Regions from separate parts of the Homo sapiens genome. Here region 1 is reported to be linked to region 2. Evidence: microRNA targets listed by miRTarBase, many of them from high-throughput screens and not tested one by one. Region 2 holds a microRNA gene; the other region holds the end of a gene's coding sequence.
What was found. The annotated mature microRNA hsa-miR-4687-5p reads CAGCCCUCCUCCCGCACCCAAA and lies in region 2 at 3,741-3,762, opposite strand. An mRNA with a match to its seed (bases 2 to 7 or 8) in the 3' UTR can be bound and repressed. Matches are read on the target gene's strand: a 7mer-m8 pairs with bases 2 to 8, a 7mer-A1 pairs with bases 2 to 7 and ends in A, and an 8mer does both.

Region 1: miRTarBase lists ADGRB2 as a target of hsa-miR-4687-5p. Seed matches in the 3' UTR shown: 7mer-m8 at 1,459-1,465.

Annotation. Positions count from the first base shown.
Region 1 is chr1:31,714,367-31,728,776 of GRCh38, reverse strand. It overlaps ADGRB2 (adhesion G protein-coupled receptor B2), which reads left to right. Exons shown (of 33, transcript NM_001364857.2): 30 at 144-179; 31 at 497-595; 32 at 696-752; 33 at 1,172-1,660. The coding sequence ends at 1,357. Among named protein-coding and RNA genes, the nearest start is that of COL16A1, 18 kb to the right of the region's middle. RefSeq lists a silencer at 4,722-4,922 and enhancers at 4,468-4,969, 12,262-12,857, 12,926-13,035, 12,858-13,455, 13,315-13,609.
Region 2 is chr11:3,852,835-3,859,834 of GRCh38, reverse strand. It overlaps MIR4687 (microRNA 4687), which reads right to left and starts at 3,773; the gene lies at 3,694-3,773. STIM1 (stromal interaction molecule 1) reads right to left here and starts at 4,171. Exons shown (of 13, transcript NM_001382567.1): 1 at 3,426-4,171. The coding sequence starts at 3,564. It overlaps STIM1-AS1 (STIM1 antisense RNA 1), which reads left to right and starts at 4,257. Exons shown (of 2, transcript NR_183662.1): 1 at 4,257-4,478; 2 at 5,177-5,512. RefSeq lists silencers at 1-139, 3,976-4,135, 4,196-4,255, 4,736-4,785 and enhancers at 1-256, 290-469, 3,256-3,305, 3,316-3,395, 3,546-3,755 and 2 more.

The sequences.
Region 1 (14,410 bases), not on the chromosome of region 2:
GAAGGTCCGCAACTTCTGGGCCTGGGTTGGGGGGAAGGTGCAGCGGGCAGACCCCTGGGATGCCAGGCTTCCTGTCTCTAAAGCCCCTGCCGGTGGTAAAAAGCTTTCTTCTCCTCCATTGCCTCCTTGTTGCTCCTTCCCAGCGAAAGAAATTACGGTATTCAGACCTGGACTTTGAGGTAAGGGCCATGTGTGTGCTGGGCGGTGGGACATCTGGCTGTGGTGTCTGTCCCTGGAGGGCTCACTCCTAAAAGTAGTCCAAGCTCTGTTGCAGAGCCTGACCCCAGGAGCCCAAGCCCGGGGGTTCCGTGGGATCTTCCCATGATTCCCTCCCTGCCCAAGCCCATAGCACCAACGTGAAGAGAGAACTAGGTCTTGTCCCAGAGGGGCTGGCAGCAGGGAGGGATGTGGGGGGCTTGGGGTGCTGAGTGCCCTGGGTAGGGGGGATCATGGTGCTGCCCCGGGGAGCGACCCTCTGATGCCCTGTGGCCCCTAGAAGGTGATGCACACCCGGAAACGGCATTCAGAACTCTACCACGAGCTCAACCAGAAGTTCCACACTTTCGACCGCTACCGCAGCCAGTCCACGGCCAAGGTGAGGGCTCCTCCCGTGGCTGCCCCTGCCCTGAAGCTCAGGGCCTGACCTGGTGCAGTGGCCCCTGGGGTTGGAGCCTGACCGGTGGCCCCCGTTGCAGAGGGAGAAGCGGTGGAGTGTGTCCTCGGGTGGGGCAGCCGAGCGGAGCGTGTGCACCGTGAGTCCCCCCGGGCTGGGTGGGGTGAGGTGGGCCTGAGGGACCCGTGCCCTCCCTGCCCTCCTGCCCCTCCCAGGCAACCCCAGCCTGTCTCACCAAGGGCCTCCCCCACGGCATGGGCAACAGTCTGGGGCCGCCTGGGGGTGGGGAAGGTGCTGCAGATGGCGAACAGGGGTGGAGGTCCTCCAGGATTGGGAGGGAGAGTGGTCAGCAGGAGACATGTCCTGGGGGCCACTGAGAACAGGGGTCAGGAGCCCCACCCTGGAACCAGGCAGGTCTGTATTTGAATTCTGCTTGACACCTGATTGCTCCATAACTTTGGGCATTACCAGCCCTCTCTGGGACTCCTCAGTTTGATCGTCTGTACAATGGGTAAGGATATTGGCCCATCTCCACGGCCCCTCCCGCTCCCTCCACAGGATAAGCCCAGCCCTGGGGAGCGCCCCAGCTTGTCCCAACATCGGCGCCATCAGAGCTGGAGCACCTTCAAATCTATGACACTGGGCTCGCTGCCCCCCAAGCCCCGAGAACGGCTGACTCTGCACCGGGCAGCAGCCTGGGAGCCCACAGAACCACCGGATGGTGACTTCCAGACAGAGGTGTGAGTGCCACGCTGGACTGCCCACTGCATATAAATATATATATCTCTCTATTTTCACACTCCACTTTGGAACTACCCAGGAGCCAGCGCCCTCTCCCCTCTCCCGAGGGCTGGGCAGGGAGGCGCCGTGGACTCAGCCAGGCTGGGGGAGCCGGACATGGCTTGGCCTGGGGTCCCAGGGCCCTTCCTTGTTTCTCAGAGGCCCCTCAGCCACTGGAACCCCATCTTCAGCCCAGCCTGTCCGTCCCTGTCCCGGGCTGGGGAGGGGGGAGGGGAACTTTGTTGGGAATAAACTTCACTCTGTGGATTTTGCTGCTGAGCTGTTTGCTTCCCTCAGGTAAAGGCCCAGCTCTGGGACCCCGACTTTGTTTCTGTCTCCTGGGTTGAACTCACTTGATCTCATCAGATGATGTGATGGGGTCAGTCCAGCCCTGCCTGGGAGGGGGCGGCCTAGGCTCTGACCCCATCTTTGTCCCTGACTCTCTGGGTGATTCATCCTTTCCCCGATCTGGGCTGTGGGAAGCAGATTGGGAGTGTGGGAGGGGACCTCTTATGGCTGGCTTTTCCTGGTGGCTGTGATGGTCGTGGCTGCCATTCACTGGGGCACAGAGGCCAGACTTCCTGGGCTAGAGCCAAGACAGAGCTTAGTGACCTTGGTTTCACATCTGTGAAATGGGGATGGTAACAGTGCCCACCTCACAGGGTTGTTACAGGGATGAAACAAATTCCTATTTGTAAAGTGTTCAGCAAATACCTGGGACAGGATAAGCTCTTGAAGGGTTAGCTGTGACCATGTGGCACCAGTCTCATGCAGTGCTCTAAGCTAGGAGCTTCACACACATATCCCCTGGCCCCTCACAACAACCCTGTTGGAAGGTTTTAGGTTGCCCATTTTGTGGATAGGAAAATGAGGCCAGAGATGGGCAGTGCCCGGCTCAAGGCCACAGTCAGAGGCAGAGCTGGGACTTCAAACCCACGCTTGATGGAGGTGGGGCTTCAGCTCAGCTTCCTGGAACTTGACCATGGCTGCAGGGGAGCCGCAGATGCTGGGTTGTGGTGGAGATGCAGGTGTTGGACCGGGCCAGGGCTGGGGTGGGGTGTGGGAGCCAGGCTGGCTTGGTGCCAGGGGCTGGAGGCTTGTACTGAGTTGCATTCATTACATGCCTGAGTGAGCGGATCCTTGCTCAGTTTTCAGGCCCCCAGAAAGAGGGGGCACAGGATTACATCTGGAAACATATTCTGGAGTCAGGCAGCAGCTGGAGCAGAGGCACGGTTAGCAGGGTCACAGGTCCTTCTTGCCTGGTCATTTAGCAACATGGGCACCTCTGGGCCCCTTCCCAGGGACTCGGAGACACAGACAGGTCCCTGGAGAGCTGAGGGAGGGTTAGGTGCTGCAGCAGCCTGGGTGGGAGTGACAGAAGTGACTGGCTGCTGGGGTAGGGGGTATCACAGATAATGGCCTGCCCAGGGGTGCTGGAGGAGGGGCGGAGGCCTCTTCAGAGTTTTGCAGGCCTTGATGGCACAGGCTTGCTCTGGTCTCATTCCAATCCTGCCTGCTGTGAGACCTGGTCAGAGGAGCCGTGCGGGCAGAGTCCACTCAGGACTGTGCTTCTAGACCCTTGGAGCTCCTGCGACTCACTCCTCCGCCTCCCTCCCTTCGGGCAGCCCCAGCACTTAAGTGTACACAGAGTTCACTCAAGCACTACCTCATTTGATTCTTCAAGGTAGGTATTGTGACTGCCCCATTTTGGAGATGAGTAAATCGAGGCTTGGAGAGGGGACATGACTTTCCCAAGCTCCCACAGCTCAGCTTGTGACTGGGACTTGTGGCTGGGAGTGGCAGAATCCGATACCAGCCAGCTTAGGCACCTGGGAGCTTTGTTCACCCAGGAGCGCGCTGCCGCAAGGACAGCAGTGGGCAAGTGCGGCTGGCCTTCGTGATGGGACCCGGGATCAGGAGTGCCACCGCATGTTTCATCCTCTCCTGGCATTCTCTCGAATGTGTGTCGGCTTCATTCTTTAAGGCCTCTTCCCCCTGGGCCTGCCAGGCTTCCTCCTCCCAGCTCGATCACTCAGCATTGCCCCTAGAGGGGAAGAAACTTTCTCTCTTGAATTCCAATTAGAAAACCCCCAAGGAAGGAAGAGCTCTGGCTGGCCCCAGGAAGGAGGCTGGGGCACTGTGATTGGCAGTCCCATCAGGAACCATGGGGGAGAGGGAGAGGGAGGAGAGGGAGCAGGTCTCTGAGAAAGGGGGGCCTGTTCCTAAAAGGGGGTTTGCACAAACAAAGCCCGACCATGTACCAGCAGATCCTACTCCACATTCCTTCCTCTGACCATCACCTAAAGGCCCTCTTAATGCCTTGTCCTGTGCTCGCACCTCCCTCCTTCCTGGTCTTAGGCTCCGCTGGTCACCACCTCTGGGGCCCTCTGGGGCTGAGGTGTGATGTGCACGTCCCTGCCCTCCTGTCCATTCTTGCTTTGCATCTGGTTGAAGAGGAAGTTTAGTATTTACCTTGTTGATTCTGCTCAAACACAAACCACAGCTACCTGCAGAGGCCTCTGCTGGCTTTGAGACCAGCCACTTAGCTTTCCTGGGGTGGGGGCTTTGTCCCTCCCTTGCCCTCAGTCCCTGCTCCCCCAGGCACTGACTTGCTGCGTGACCTTGGACAGGCCACTGGACCCTGTCTGACATGGGTTTCCCTATCTGTAAAATGAGTTGGCTCGATCTCCCTTCCATTTGAGCTAATATCTAACAACCTGTCATTTCTTTCCTGGACTCAAATTTCTCACATCATTGCCCTCATTTTCTCTGCCTCCAGTCTCCAGCCCTTCATCCACATGGCCCAAGTGATCTTTCCAAAATGCAGATCTGGCCAGGCCACTGCTCAGATGCCTTCTGTGGATCCTGGAATTAGCCTAGAGTTCAAGGCCCTTGGTGATGTGGCCCTTGCCTCCCTCCTCTGGCCCATCTCTCTGACCTCCATGCCTGTGCATGCACCACTCCTTCTGCCTGAAACTCCCTCCTCCTCACAGAGGGGAAACTCTCCTTCAGCCTTCCAGACCCAGCCCAAGTAGCCCCCTGTGTGATGCTGTCCCTGAACTCCCTGGCCCAGCAGTCAGCACTCGCTGGGCCCCCACAGGCCTTGGCATGCACTGTCACTACTGCACTGATCACACAGAACTGCTGTCATCTGTGTTGGCCTTGCTGTGGTTTGTGCACTCAGAGGCCCACATGAAGCAGGCATCAGTGAATCTTTAGCGGGTGAAGGGTGGAATACACAAATCTCCCTGAACATTGATTTCCTCATCTGCAAAATTGGGATAATGACAACTCCTACCCAGTCTTCCTCACTGGATATCCGGAGCATGACTTAAGATGATTCATGGGAAGCATTTTATAGGTGTTAATCTACTCCTCCCACAGTTATTCCTTCCTCAACCCCAAGTGGGAAGCCAGCCCTGGCTGCTGTCCAGGGTGCTGAAAGGGACTTGTCTTCACCCAAAGGATGAGGAGACAAGACTGAGAGGCCCGCCCGCACAAGCTCAGCTGCAGCCTTTTCTTGCTTTCCAGACTGGCAGGGTCAAGGATGAGCAGACCATCCCTACCTTCATGAGAACAGACCCTGGGAGATGTCTAATAAAAATACAATGTAAACGACATATGTAATTTAGAATTTTCTAGTAACCATTCTTTAAAAGTTTGAAAAGGTGAAATTCATTTTAATAATATATCTCATTCAATATATTAAAAAACGATCATTTCAACATATAATCAATATAAAAAATGACTGAGATATTTAACATTCTTTTTTTATACGGAGTCTTGGAAATCTCGTGTGTGTTTTATACATACAGTGCTACAGTGCATCTCAAGTCAGTCTCACCACCTTCTGACTGCTCAGTACTCCCGTGAGGCTACCATGTCGGACAGCACAGCTCTAGGCAGAACAAAGGCAGTGACCTTGAGCAAGTGAACTCAGTGCCCTCTGTGAAAAGGAGGTACTTCCGCACAGCCTGCCTCATGGGGCCATGGAGAGGGCTTGAGGAGGTGATGGAGGGAAAGTTGCCAGCACAGTGCCCGCACAAGGGAGGTCCAAAGCCAGGGTTCCTGGGCTCCACATATCCTGGGGATACTGGTGGGTAGGGAGGAGGTGTTGGGGAAGTAGGGGAAGGTCCTGAGGAGACCTGTGGACTGGTATCAGGCCTCCCTCAGCAGCACTAGGGGAAGGGGTCACCCTTACCCTCACCCTTACCCTTACCCCTGCAGCCCTAGACTCTGGGAGAAGGGAAGCAAGTTGAGGCTAGACTGGAACAGACACGTTAAAACTTAATTGGGCTTAAATCACTTCCATTAGGCACCAATTAAAAGGAAATTAGGTGGCCTGAGGGAGGACCTGGGTGCGGGATGCTGCTGACTTCTGCTTCTCAGGACTCATTTCCCTTCAGGCTTCTTCATGCCCACCCTGGCACCTCATGGGGTCCCCCAGTTGGGGCTTTTCTAATCCAGTCCCCAGTACCCATCATATTCCTCCCTCCACTCCTCCAAGGCCACTGACTCTGGGAAGACTTCCACCCTCTCAGGCCCTCAAAACACATGCTAAGTGTCTAAGGCAGAGGAGACTCCACTGAGGGTTTTGGCCTTTAAGGAGAGTGGGAAGCTAAGGAAGAGTGTTGAGCAGAGTACTGGCATGATCAGATTTCTATATCAACACGATTTCTCTTGAGTGGATGGAAAATGGATTGGTGGGGGCAGGGACACTGAAGAGTGAGGGTGGAGAGAGAGACCAGCAAGGAGATGATCTGCATGAAGGAGACTTTAGAGGGTGCTATGGAGGAGGAATGGAGTTTCTATATATGTAGTGGGTAGAATTGTCAGCACTCAGCTCCTGGTGTGGATTGGGTATCAGAGAGGAGCCAAGGATGACACCTGGGCTTCTGTCTTACACACCTGGATGGATGACCGTGTCATTGGCATAGAGGTACAGGAAGAGGACCAGCTTTGGGGGAGACAGTCATTAATTTGGCCTTGGGCATTGTCTTAGTCCATTTTGTGCTGCTATAACAATACCTGAGACTGGGTCATTTATAAAGAACAGAGATTCATTCATTGCAGTTCTGGAGGCTGGGAAGTCCAAGGTTGTGGGGCTGTCATCTGGCAAGGTCTTTTTTGCTGCATCATCTTATGGCAGAAGGCAGAAGGGTGAGAGAGAGAGCAAGAGATTGAATTCAAAGACTCAAGCTCTTTTATAATCAGTGTTAATCCATTCATGAGGGCGGTGCCCTCATGATCTAAACACACACCCCCCATTGACCCCATCTCCCAACACTGTTGCACTGGGGATTAAGTTTCCAACACATGCTTTTTGGGGGACACATTCAAACCATAGCAGGCATGTCAACTTTGAGATGGTCAAGGGGAGATGTCAAGTGGAAAGTAGGTAGTTGAACACACAGGGCTGGAACTCAGAATGAGGGGCTGGGCTGGAGTCATTACTATGGGAGGAACCAGCACTGAGGTGGGTTGTAGAGTAGGGTGGGAGGTGAATAAATCAAGGGACTAGAGACAGTTCTTAAAGTGGAGCTTTGAAAAGAGGGAGACTCCCTTTGTTCAGGACAGGTGAAAAAAAAGAGAAAAGAGGGAGAGAAAGCTCAGGGCTTACTGTAGTCTCTGAAGGTGAGTTAGCTGGAGAGGATGATGGGAGATTTCCATGAACAGAGAGGCTGTCCCTACCTCCTCTCCAAGATCCTACATAATGATCAGAAATAACCAGCCCTACCGCCTTGGGAGGCCGGGTCCTGAGACCCAGTAATGGTTATCATCACAGAGATTGATTCTGCTCATTTGTTGCACTTCAGGTTAGCCACAGTTCCTGGAGGTGGGAATGGGGTTGGGGGGACACTCAACAAGGCCTGGACTCCAAGACCTTCGGGACGGATGGGACTCTGGACTCCATGGGGAAGGTGGAGAAGCAGGCACGGTGCTCCGGGCTCCCTGAAGCCCTCACTTCTACTCCTCCTGAGCAGGTGGAAGCAAAGGTGAGCCCCTCCTCTCCAGGCCTCAGCTTCCCTATGGACCTGCTCCAGGCTGTTATGTGCCTATCCCCTGTGGTGGCATGGCAAAGCCTCAGCCATCAATCCAAGTGTCCCTAGAGTCAACCAAGAAAGTCAATATTTAATTTGGGCACCATGTTAATGCCATCGATCGCCAGCTCCCTCCTCCTTCCTCAGGCTCATTTGTCACTTCCCACTCACTGGGGGTGGGGTGGGGTGCAGCCTAGTAGAGGCAGAGCTCAGCCTGGACTTGGCCTGGGAAAACTGGCCTGCATGTGGAGGTGCTCCCCTCAACCACCCAGCTTCCAATCCCCTGAGAATCACTGAGCTGCTTTGTCTGAGTTTCCTAAGTGCCATCCCTGGGGAGGTCAGTGAAGTGGGGAGGGGAGGTCAACTTTTCTCCCAGGCCCCCACATTGAGTCTAATTCCCTTCTGGGGCCATACATAGAGCAGGTGTGGTTGGGGGTTGACTGAGTGAAGGAGGGCTAGCACCTGTGACATAGGCCACTGGGAGAGAAGTGAGAGCAAATTTGAGACTCGGCTTCTGGATCCTTCCTGGGTGCCCAGTTCTGTGTCTGTGTGATGCTGTGGAAGTCACATGGGGGACCTGAGATGTGGTCCATCTCTAGGACCCAGAGAGGAGGCTGAGGGAGCATTGAGCTTAGAGGTTTAGGGCTCAGCTGGGTAGCGAAAGAGGGGCTGGGGTAAGGGCAGACCCCATTTAAAGGCTTGGCTGGGTCCAACTTCCAGTTTGTTCTCATCAGTTCTGTGGATCCAGATAGGGGCCCCTCAGCATTCTTCCCCAGCCCGGCTCACCCAGGGAGGGAATGCCTCCAGTCTGCTTCAGGGGCCAGGCTTGGGTCCCAACTGCAACTCCATCTCCAACTTGCTGAGTGACCTTGGACAAGTTAAGTAACCTCTCTGAGCCTTAGATACCTCCTCTGAGAGACCTCTTGGACCTTGGTCACTTGGTACTGTTTTTAGAGGGTCAGGGATGGGCAGGAGCAAGCTTGATGGTCCAAGGAGGGTTATTTCCCAGAGTTCTCACAATGAGCAGCTCCCAAAACCTGCTGACAGTGCTACTGCCTTCTTCCTACCTGTAGGGCTGCTTGCTGTCAATTAGGCCTGGGCCACAACGGCACCCTTGGTCCTCCTCGTTATCCAGAGTGCAGAAGCCAAGACCATGTCATTGAGGGGATGGTTGGGCAAGCCCTGCCATCTAGCACTGGGTGATCAATGGGCGGACTGAGTTCAGTTTAGGATGCCAGCAAGACAGTAACAACACGTGCACACACAGATAAGCAGAAAGAAATTCTGAGGCCAGGTGCGGTGGCTCATGCCTGTAATCCCAGCATGTTGGGAGGCCGAGGCGGTCGGATCACCTGAGGTCAGGAGTTTGAGACCAGCCTGGCCAATATGGTGAAACCCCGTCTCTACTAAAAATACAAAAATTAGCTGGGTGTGGTGGCGGGTGCCTGTAATCCCAGCTACTTGGGAGGCTGAGGCAGAAGAATCGCTTGAACCCAGGAGGCGGAGATCACGTCATTGCACTCTAGCCTGGGCAATAAGAGCAAAACTCCATCTCAAAAAAACAAACCAAAAAAAAAAAAAAAAAAGAAGAAGAAGAAGTTCTGCTTCCATGAACTAATCCAGAATTTTGCAATTGAAAATCCAAAAGGAAGTGGTTTTCATTCCAGCATGTGCATAAAGAAGTATGCTTCATGGATTAGTATTATTTCTATTGTGAATGATGTATGGGAGTGCCAGACTCTTCCCAATGGATGGCATGTAAATGTCTTAATCTGGCCCTGTTGACCTACTCTGAGCCATTGAATCAAGCCTTGAGCCAGGAGAACTTGATTGGTCATTTATTTATCAGTAAATGGTGTCTGATGTCAACCCCATGCTGGGCCTTGGGATGGGCACTGACAACGTAAAGATGAGGAAGGCATAGTCTCTAAGAAGGCTCCCAAGATGGAGGAGCTGGGGGAAGGGATGGATACTGTTTCCAGGGGCTTCCCATTGCTCTTTGACTAAAACAAAGGCTCTCACTGTGGCACAGGAGGCTCGGCATGCTCTGGTCCCTGCCCATTGCTCTGTCCAAATGTCCTGCCACTTGCTGTCACTGTCTGAGCAGCTCCATGGCCTCCTCTCTGCTCCTCAAACACATTTCATGGATTCTCCCTTCCCAGGGCCTTTGTGTTTGCTGTGCCCTCAATTTGAAAGTCTCTTCCCTGGCTGTCTGCTGTGCTGGCTCTTGTCTTTTGATGAGATGCCACCTCCTCAGAAATGCCTTCCTTGACTACCCCTTTCTCCCACCAAGTCATTTTTTAAAAATCACATCACCTAATCCTTTCCACAGTATCATTTCTCCTGATCTGAGTTTATATCACTTGTTTCCTATTTATTGTCTGTCTCCCCCACTGGACTATGAGCCCCTGAGGGCAGAACAGGGTCATACATTCATACTGTTGCTGGGACAGGATAGGAACTGCATAGATATTGCTGAATGAATGAATGAGGAGACATTGGGAGGGGGCTGTCCAGGAAGCAATTAGAGCTGAAGGTCTAGTTCTCAGTGCCCTGCCGCAGGCAGACTGTCTGTGTCTGTGCCTGTGGTGGGGTGGGGAGGGCTTTGCCTGTGCAGGCCTGGGAAGGGGAGAGCCCCATAGGACACCAGCCTCAGGGCATGCATATTGCAGAAGGCTCCTTCCTTGAATATTAACTCACTGCCAGACTGGCATCCCTGACTGCTGCTGAATTTTTCACTGTCAGGGCCAGTGGTTGATGGGGGATGGGGGTTGGGAGGACAGCACATCCACGTCCAGAGGGCCACATGCACTTTTGTGTGACATTGTCACGTGCAGCTGTCTGGGCAAGGGCTTGCTCCCAGGTGGCCATGCATGGATGCTATGGGCAGCTCTGTGTCTGAGCATGTTCTGCCCTTAGCTGGCCTGCCGTGCACACAGGTGAGTTGTGTTTTACATGCTCTCATTTCCAGGCTCAACTGAGGGAAGAAAGGGCCCTTAGAGAACATTCAGTTCCACTCCTCCCGTTGTGCAGAAAGGAAATCTGAGGCTCAGAAGGGAGAGGTTGCTCGAGGTCACACCATGAGTCCTTGGAGGATCAAGGCTAAAGCCCAGTGAACAGTGAGCATTTATTGAGAGCCTGTGGTGTACCTGGCACCATGTTGGGCATGGGGAACTCACTCTACTAGAGAAGCCCACAGTCCAGGAAACCAGGCTTGGGGAAGAAGGAGACAGACATGGGCCTGAGCATTAGGCTGCAGAGCAGGAGAAGTTTCCTCTGCCTTCAGAAGAGGGTGTCAGGGAAGACAAGGAAACACTTGCACTGAGCTCTGAAGACTAATTGAAAGCTCAGCAGGCAGAGAAAGGGGAAAGGGCACTCCAGGCAGAGGGTGCCTCATAAGCAAAGGCACGAGGCATGAAACAACTTGGCAAGTTTGGGGAATTGCAAATAGTGCAGTTCAGCTGGAGAGGATGGGCTGCGGATACGGGGCGGTGAGATCACAGTGGCTTTGTGGGATATCATCGGGGTTTGGATTTTATTCTGAGGGCCAGAGGGGAACCACGGAAGCAGACTTGGGTTTTAGAAGGATTTCTGTAGCTACGGAGGAAAAGCGAATTCAACCGATACATTTTGAGCAGTCAATATATGCCAGGTACCACGCTGGGTGCTGAGGATACAATTCTGAATGAGGCACATACAGTCTCAGCTCTGCAGCGTATTAAGAGACACACAGACAGGTGTAGTAGGGAGGAAGCTTGGCACACAAACAAGAAATACCCTGTTTCTGTATTCACTTTAAACCAACTCCAGTCTGACTCACTCTAAACGCTTTCCTATGAGTTGGCAAAAAATTTAATCTCAACCATCACTGAAGGCTCCCTCCCACCTTTCCCACTGGCGAGTGCAAGGAGCTGCTGGCCCTCCCTGCACATGGGCACAGAAGAGGTGCCTCCTGTCTTCAGTCTACATTGGTCACACAGAGATGTCCATTGTCCTAGTAGTCCATATGGTCCCTTGAGGCTCAGTGACTAAGCTGTTCCCCTGCTACTTTGGAGCACTGAAGCTGGTTCCCAAGTGTTTGCACTCCAGCCACCCCAGGTGCGTTACCACACATCCCCACAGCTCCTGTCACCTGTCAAGGGAGCTATCAGCTGTCAAGGGAGCTAGACACAGGTCCCTACCACCCAAAGGACCCCCAGCTTCTGCACCCTCTGCAGCTAGCTTCTGCCTCTCAATTCTCTGTCCTCTTCTCCCCATCCCTTGGGAACACATGGCACGCCTGCTTCCAGAAGTTTAGCTCTTTCCAAACTCAGGACAAGCCATCAGACTTCAAGCAGCTTTTTGCGTTTGGCCCTGCACAGTTCCCTGAGGCTAGAAAAATCAAAGGGCTTGGCTACCAGCTTGCAAGTGGGAGGGGAAACTACAGGAGAACAAAGCAATTAATATCTCAATCAATTGTCCTGCCACGGGAGTGAATAAGTCATTAGAGACCCAGGCAGTGACTGCTCTGAGAGAGGCAGGCACATACTGGGGGTGGTGGGAGGTCAGACAAGGGGCACCTAACTAAGACCTGGGGTTCAGGAAAGGCCTCCCAAGAAGTGGAGTCTCTGCCAGACTAAGCCCTGAAGACAGCAAGGATGAGGCCAGGGAGGGCGTTCCTGGAAAAGGGATGAGGAGCTGACAGTTCTCCTGTATGGGTGGAACACAGAAAGCCCCAGAGAGGGACTGGGGCTGAGGGAGGTGGAGCTGGATGGTGAAGAGCTCAAGTCCCAAGTCAAGGTTTGGAGTCTATTTGGACCATAAGATGCTATTGAATGATTCTAATCAAGAAAGTGACACAACCAGATTCCTGTTTAGAAACACCGCATGGCGGCTGGGCGCAGTGGCTCACGCCTGTAATCCCAGCACTTTGGGAGGCCGAGGCGGGTGGATCATGAGGTCAGGAGATTGAGACCATCCTGGCTAACACGGTGAAACCCCGTCTCTACTAAATGTACAAAAAATTAGCCGGGTGTGGTGGCGGGCGCCTGTAGTCCCAGCTACTCGGAAGGCTGAGGCAGGAGAATGGCGTGAGCCCGGGAGGCGGAGCTTGCAGTGAGCCGAGATCGCGCCACAGCACTCCTGCCTGGGCCACAGAGCAAGACTCTGCCTCAAAAAAAAAAGAAAAGAAAAAAAGAAACACCACATGGCTATGAAAAATGGATGGGGGAGAGGGTAAAACTGGTGGCAGGAAGAGCAGTTGTCAGGTGTTCCAGGGACTGGAACCGGCAGAGGCAGCTCCCAGGGATAACTGCAAGGAAGAAGGGAAGGGGATAGGACCTGGAGATGGGGGGAAGAAGGGAAGATAGATGTTAGAATGACTCCCCTTTCTATCTGGGGCGAATCCCCGAGATGGAGCGGACTGGGCAGGATGGTGGTGGGTAGGCGCCAGTGGGACCTCCAAGGAGAAAAAGGAGCCCAGGCGCGGTGGAACCCTTTCCGCACCCCACCTCTGCACTCCGCGATTCCCAAGCTTCCCGCTAGGTGGAGGGCTGGTGCCCTGGAGACCGGGCTCCGCCTCCCATCCTCCGCCCCTCATCCCAGAAGGATGGACCTTGACTTGGGCCTCCCCAAACCCCGCGTCCCTGTACTCGCCACCAGAGCTCATGTGTCTTGAGCCATCAGCTGCCCCCACTCCAGGGCTCCGTGGCAGAGGCATCGTCCTAGACACTTCTGCCCAGGCGCCTCCCTGGGCCTTTCTGTGCCCACGTATACAGGGCTGTTTCTATGCTCGGGGCGGCCTCGGCCACTCCAGCCTCGCAGACTGCCGGGTCCCCGCAGCTACGTCCTGCAGCCTGGAGGCTTCCCGTTCGCGGCGCCAGGAACGTTCCCTCACCCGCCACCCTCGACGCCCTTCTATTCCCTGACCCCACGCGGGAGGAGGGCTCCATGCCTCTCAGAGGCAGGCTACCCCTCATCTAGGCCTCTCTGGACCTTGGGACAGGTTCTAAGGTTGGCCAGGGCTGGGCGGAGCCAGATAGGAGGCAGGGCCTAGGGCGGAGTCAGGGAAGGCACCCGGCCATGAGTGTGGTCCAAAGGCAGACCAGTGGCGTGGCCAGAGTGGGCTGGAGGCGTGGCTGTCGGCGGGGTGGGGTCGGGATCCCCAGAACCTGGCAGCTTCCTCTCCTCTCCCACCCTAGCCAGTTCTGTCGCCCAAAGCCCCGCCCGCCCTGGCCCCTGGTCCAATGGGCAGACACAGCGACCATCGGGAGGCTCCTGGTCCCACTTAACAGAGGTCGTTATTTGGGAGGCCGCGCCCAGTTCTCTGGAACTGCCAGGCCTTGTGGGGAAGGGGGGCGCATTCTCTGGGCCTGCGCCGCACACCCTGACACCCACCCTCCATGTGCTTCCACCCTTTTCCAAGTAGACAGCTGGAGGGCCTGGGGCTTGAGCCCCGAGCTGGAGGAGCTGGTCAGGCGCCTGCGCCCCCCACGAGGCCCCCCTTCCCTTCAGTCTGCGCTCAGGCCCAGAGCCGGCTCTAAAAATAGACCGGGGCGCAGGAACGTGCCCACCCAGGAGCGGGTCAAGGAGGCCTGAGTCACCGTGTCGGGAGAGCCTTCTTCTTCTCCTCCCCGCCCCCCCACCACCTCCCACCTCGGGGGCTGAGGACGCCTCGATGGCCCGGCATCACTCCGGCTCTGCTGGCCCGACTCTGCGCCCTTGGCAGGGCGGTGCCGGCGGGGCAAGCGGTAGCAGCCACAGCCGGGAAGGATTAGGAGTTCCTGGGCCTGATTTATTTGGTTGTTTTCGTGCGTCTGGCGGCGGCGCCCCCGCCTGGCAGGACAGTCACGTCTGCATTGCTCTTCTCTCCCACCCAAGCTCATGGGTCTGTCCTAGACTTCAGGGTGGGGACCTGGGCTCGCAGCAACACAAAGTCCCGACCTGGATATTAGCGGTTCTGGAGCAAACACTGCTATTCCATAGATGAGAAAACCGA
Region 2 (7,000 bases):
CTCTCCCCAGGCCCCAGTATTAGCTTCAGCCAAGCCCCACCTACCTGCTCTTGGCCCCAGCCCAGTTCCGGGAGCCACCCTCAGCTAAAATTAGCATAGCTACCAAGATGGCCAGGCCATTTATAGCCTTGGAGGCAGCAGCAACTAGCTGGGGGAGGGAGGCAGGGTTCTGGCCTGCCACTCCATCAGAGGTTGATTGAGAAGCCAGCCTGCACTCTGCACACTGCCTAGATGCCTATCCTCCAAGGCCCTGTCCTAGCTACACTGAACTAAACCACAGTTCCTGATTAGAGGCCCTCAATACCTCCAACACTGGCAGCCATAACTCCAGACTCCACCTGAGGTCCCTCATGCACATTCTACAGAAACCATTGTTGTTTTCTAGAGTCTAAGGACGGTTCCAAGCATCCGTATCAGGCCAGCTTCAGAAACGCAAGCCCCAGAGTAGCACAGGCAGGCACAGATCTTTACTGAGAAAGTGACCTAGCATGGCTGGGTGTACAGGTATTAAAGAGCCAAAGGGTGACAGGAATGGCCTCTCCACGGCCCAGTGAGAGATCCTCCTTGTAGAGCACCTGCCTTCACTGCAGGATCAGGCTTTCATAGTGTTTATTGTATGCATGCTAAAGCCATAAGCATTTTAACTAAATCAATCTTAGGATCAAATATTTTAACTAACTAAAAAGAGACAGATGGGTATATACATCCAAAAGAGAAAAAATCAAATTCTCTGGGCCCCTGCAAAAGACTCTCCAGAGCAGAAAAAAAGTACAGCCCTTTTCTTGGCTCTCAGCTACAGAGTCACCAAGGCCTGCCTAATTGTCAGAAGGAAAGCAACATTCTCCAGCCCTGCCTAGCACTCCTTTAACAGGGCAGGACCTGAGAAGATGGAAGAAATCCAAGACTTAAGCATCAGAAGACCTGCCTATAAGAAAGACCAAGCACAGGACCAGGTTTCTTCACCCATAAAAATGGGGACAATACCACTTGCCCTGCATTGTAACAGGGCTATTGTGAGACTCTGTTGGAAAAACAGCTATGTAATTGTAAAATACAAACTGCAGAGAACACACAAATTGACTGGGTATGTTGAATCTGATTTTTAAAAGTAGTAGTTTTAAGAGCAAGTAAAGCTCCTCCTGTGTTCTGGGGATACAGAGAGGCTGGAAAGGATGCAAGAGTTCCTAGTTGCATAGAAAGTTTCTCTCCAAACTCTTTTGCAGATCCCAGTCTATATGAACCACCTCTTTGCAAAAACAAGTCCCTGACTGAGTCAAAGACAAAACCCCAGGTAGACCCAAGGGGAAAACCTACCACAACAATAGTGCTAGAACCTCCAGGTTTCCACAAACCTTAGGCATTCACAGCACCTAGGGTCTCTCTGAGACTTTCCTCCCTGGAATTCACTATTATTGTGACAACAGAAACCAGTTTCTAAACTGAGCATGAGTAGGCCTAAGTGGTATAATCAGCATAGCCAGGCCTCTGAAATATATGTTGTGTGAAGAATTGTCTCCAAAAGCTCAAGTCATGGGGTGGTCCTGAGGAAGGCTAGAATGCCTTTTACTTCAGGCGAAAAACAAAAAACAAAAAAAAAAAAACCTTCCTAATAGCCAGCCAATGTCTACATTCAAAATTTCATCCCTTTAGCTTATGTCTAAAATATAGAACACCCACTCTCCAAAAAATATTCATCTTATGTCAGGCACTCATATTTTGGAGTGAAAAAAGACATATTATCAGTTATAAATAGGAATGTCACAGGGACAGGAAGAGATGATAATTAGGTCTACTTCACAGTTCAATCTACATTTGCCCACTAGTCTTTCCCTTCATAGCCCAATAAGAACCAAGCTTTCAGCCAGGTCTCAAAGGTCAAGGAGACTCTCTATGGAGAGACAGGATTAATAGGCAAAAAGGATCTATCTAGAAAGCAACAGCCAGGTATCCTACTTACACATGGGCAACCCTGGCCTCATTTGGAAACCAGACCTCTTGGAACATCTGGAACTTAAAAGGGTATTGCCCAATAAAGGGTCTACCACCAAAGCCAGCTTCTGGATCCATCCATGAAACTCCCCAGCCACCATGACCTATATTTCCTTTTCTGACTTGTATCAGCAGGTGCCCACTGAGCCATTCCCTCATTTGAACTTGCTTATGCTCAGAAACAACTCATCTATAAACTCTCCCCACACTGCAGGTCACAGCTTTGGGCAGATCACAGCCAAAGGGTGAGAGAAATGGGAAAAGAGAACTGATCTCGTAAGCCTTATGTAAAATGACTGGATTTTAATAGAGTTCCTTGATGGGTACAGTGGCTCACACCTGTAATCCCAGCACTTTGGGAGGGATCCCTGCACAACACAGAGAGACAGTGTCTGTTCAAAAAATTAAAAATAGAAAGAAAAAAAAAGTTAGCCAGGCCCAGTGGCTCTTGTGTTTAGTCCCAGCTACCGGGAGGCTGAGGCAGGAGGATCACTTGAACCCAGGAGTTTGAGGCTGTAGTGAGCTGTGATCACACTACTGCATTCCAGCTTGGACGACAGATCAAGACCCTGTCTCAAAAAAACAAAACAAAACATAAAAGTGTTCCTTTCTACTGCAAAAGTATACCAGGGCTCCTGCTGCCTGATAAGCCTTCACAACTGCATAGGAAAAACCATGACAGATCAAAAGTAGCATGGTTTCCCTAGCAAGCAGACTCAGGGAAAAAAAAAAAAAAACAAAAAAAAAAACCTGTAGCATGGAATTCCCACCCTCATCAGTCAGAAGAAACAGAATAAGTCAACAAGTGGTCCCAGGAATTATATCATGTCTATGTCAAGAAAAGGCCATTTAACACCCTAGTTGTAAATAGGATTCCATCTAAGAAACCGCCTGGATATTTCAAATGCGCACAGCAAAGAGACAAGACTACCTAAGGGAAGGGTGGGACTAGGGTTCCCACGGTTGTTGGAATAGGCACACCTGAACACCAGGCTTTCAGGCAACAGAGGTGGCCCAGCCTTAACTTTCCCTTTCCAACATAAGTGGCCCCAACCTCCCCCATGCTGCTCAGTACTAAAACCGAATAGGAGCAATGAACTTATCATCTCACCAGGCCATTCTTCCAGACAAGTAGGCCTAAGATGGGGTCTTTCCTTGCTGATCTAAAAGGTCAAGTTGCCCCAAAGGCTTCTTCTTACTGCCAACAAAAAAAATCCTGAGTGCGGGGGATGAGGAAAGTTGTTCAGGAAAGATACAGGCATTTGCCATGACTACTGACCAGAAAGAACTTCTTGAACTACTTGGAACAGGCAGTGCCATGTGTGAATCCTCCATGAACCTCACATGTACAAACCTAGATTTCAACTTGCCCACTTCGGGCCACTCAGTCCTGAGCCAAAGCCTCCAGCCCAGTCCAGCCCGCAGCAAGGCCTTACCTGCTGCAGTGGACTCCTCAGAGTTGGCCCCCGAGCTGGTTCCTGTCGCCTTCTCACTGTGACTATGGCTGAGGCTCTGGCCCTGGTGCAGGAGGAGTCCCCAGAGGAGCCACAGGGCAAGACGGACGCATACATCCATGACTCTAGGTCTCAGTCAACATGCGTCTGATGTGGACACCTCGGGATCCCAGAGGCAAAGCCAGGAGCCCGGGAGTGCAGCCGACGGTCTCCAGGCAAGATGCCCTCGCGGCTCCGCAGCTGTCCAGCCACCCGCGAGCCTGCCCCCTCCAACAGCCAAAGGTCAAGTGCTCCAAGTTTGGGTGCGGGAGGAGGGCTGGCTCCTCAGGTCCAACAGTGGGTCCGCCGGGGCTGCGGCGGCCTGAGCTCGTGCCGCTTCCGGAGACTTCGGGCAGGGTGGCTGCGGGGCTGCTGTCAGCTCCGCAGATTACTACACCCCTGCGGAAGGGGGCGGCCGGAGTCTCCGCGGGCACAGAAGTGGAGGAGGAAGAGAAGAGAAGAGAAGAGAGGCGAGAAGGGGGCACCTGACCTCGCCCTGCCGAAGAGCGGCGAGCAGCAGAAGCTGGGGAGGGCGTGCGACCCGCAGGGTCCTGAGGGCGCGGGCGTCTCCGGGATCCTGGGCCTCCTAGGCCGAGGTCAGCGCCCCCGCCCAGTCCCGTGCCCAGGCGGCTGGCGGTGCCCAGGTCCAGCAGGCGGACGCACACCGGCCAGGCCCAGGACAGCGGCTTCCAGGCGGGCGGGCGGCGCGGGGCGGGCCCGGGGCGGGCGGGGGCGTGCGTCTCCGCGCCCGCCCCGCGCCGCCCGGTCCCCAGCGAAGCCCGGGCCAGCCCCAGCGCCCAGCTGGATCCCGGAATAACCGGTGAAGACGGCTCCCCGGAATCCCCGCCCCTAGCGGGCTCTCCCGGACCCCCGGCCCGCGCTAGTCTTTGCCAGGATCCCGCGCAAAGGATCAAGTCCCAGCTTCCCTTTCCCCACCGAGAGTCTCCAGCGCCAACCGCGGGCCGTCGGGCGGGTCCCTGACCCGCAGTTACTCAGGTAACTCAGGCCTGCGGCGGCGGCGACAGCAGCTGCCCTGCCCCGATCTCCGGGCCTTGGTGCTGCTCCACTCGCCTCAGTTCTAGAGCTGTCTAAACAGAGGCCCAGGACACGACGTTAGCCTCCCAGGAGCTGCCTGAGGCGACAACAGCCTGACCCGGCTCGGCCCGGGGGCGAGCTCCCAGCCCCCAACTCCCGGCCAGTTCCCAGGCTCCGCCCTCGCGCCTCGCCTGACAACCAATCGGCTTCCGCCTCTCTGCGGCTTGGGAACCCGCGCGCTTCGTCGCCCATGCGCAGCGGCCCCTGGTGGGAAAATCAGCAAACTGCAGACAGGACTCGGCGCTCCTGGGAGGGCCTGCTCTTTTGCAGAGGGTTGCCGAGTGAAGCTAAGACCCGCCCCGGGGGAGGCCCACGAGGGCCACTGGGGCCTGCGAGTGTTTTCTGAGGAAATGATGATGCCAGAAAGCAAAATGAAATGTCCAAACCACTCTAGCTAAAATTCCCCTACACATTCCTTGAGTCTGGGCTAAAGGGTGCCATCTGCTTTCCCGACCCCGCCTCCCTTCCCCTCCAAGCTAAGTGGGATGCCCTCCCTTAGCTCTCACAGCCCTTTTTCCTACCTGCCCTCAAGCTCTCAGCCCTTTAAGGTTTTTCGGTGGGGCCTGTAAATGCTTCCTCCCTGCATCTCATTCTCCCAGCTACCTCTCTGGTGGAGGAGGTGTCAGCGACTTGAGAATGAGTGCGCCAAAGAAGACAGAGCCACGCCTGAGCCTCCTTCAACAAAGCCTGCACTTCCTGTTCTCTTCTCAAGCGTGCTGTCAGCAGATCTTGACTGAAACCTCTGTGCCCTACCCTGTCCTTGGCACCAGACGCAGGGGAAAGGATCAGGCCCAGTCCCTCCTCTGACTGACAGTGCTAAACCAGCTACCTGTTCTGAGCAAGGCCCCTGAAGACTGGGAACACGAATTTGCCCAACAGCTGCCTGGCTTAAGGGTTAGGCCGTTGATATAAAAATACATGGCTAATGTAACCTACTACCACTCTCCCGGCTCTGTTAAGCTCCTGTCACACTAGCCTTCGTTAAGTTCCTAACCACGTCAAACTCAGCCACCTCACAGCCTTTGTATCTGCTGTTGCTTCTGCATGAAACACTCTCGCCTGCTCCCAGTTCCTCATGTAGCTGGTCTCTTACTCTTCCAGATACAGCTCAATGTGTCTCCTTAGAAACTTTTACTCTGCCCACCCCTTCAAAATCAGTCTGTGGCCAAAATTGGACCATTACATCTGTCTGCCCCTCCCCCAACAGATAGTGATTGCCACTTTTCAGGTCAGAGACTGTGCCTTATTCATCTCTGTGACACTAGGACCCAGCCATAGACCCTGCACATAGTAAGTTCTCTGTAAAAGCTGGATTACATGAGTTAATTCACTTGAACACTCAGATACTAAAAACTAATACCGGAATATTGGAAAATTGACCAGAACAGTTGAAACCCTACCTAGGTTCTCCTAGACCTATTCTCTGAGCCAGGGGTCTTAAATTCAAATGGCAAAATGGGCAGGTAGGTAATTCAATTAAGAAAAGTAGGTAGGAGTAATACGGAGTGGTGGGGACTGTGGAGAGCAGGCAGAAAGATGGGCCTAGTATTGCTGGAGTGTCATTAAGAGAAGATGGGGCTGGGTGCAGTGACTCATATCTCTAATCCCAGCACTCTGGGAGGCCAAAGTGGGAGGATTACTTGAGCCCATGAGTTCAAGACCAGCCTGGGAAACACAGTGGGACCCCCATCTCTACAAAAAAAATTTTTTTAATTAGCCATGAGTGGTATCTGGCTTCTGTGGTCCCAGCTACTCAGCAGGCTGAGGGGGGATGATCGCTTAAATCCAGGAGCTCAAGGCTGCAGTGAGCCATGATCACACCATTGCACTCCAGCCTGGGCAACAGAGCAAGACCCTGTCTCAATTAAAAAAAAAAAAAAAGAGAGAGAGAGAAGATGGAAATCTGGACTTTCATATGACATATCCTTTTTAAAAAAATATTAGCAATTCGTTTAAAAGGATAAAACCTTATATAGGCCACAGAAAACATGTCTGCAGCCCAGATTAATCACTCAGACTGACAGTTGATCATTTCTACCTAAGCCAGCTCTCCTGCCTGTGCACTCATTTGCCTAAGAGAACATGAAAGAAATGAGCAAAGTAAAGCATGTTTAACACAATTTCCTTCAAACTCGACTACAGCATTTCTTTTCACCACCATATGATTTCTTCGGGGTTATGGGTGCTTATCTATTTGGTACAACAAACAGATCTTGGAGGCAGGAAGCCAGGGTCTGTTACCAATTTACACCAAGACCTTAAACCTCTTGGAAGCTGTCGAATTTCCTGTGACGCTAAAATGGTGTCTAAGAACTAACAATAGTTACTATGATGCACCAATTTCAATGGTGGGTGTACACCCAGAAAATGTAAGCAGGGTCTTGAAAATTGTACACCCATGTTCATAACAGCATTATTCACAA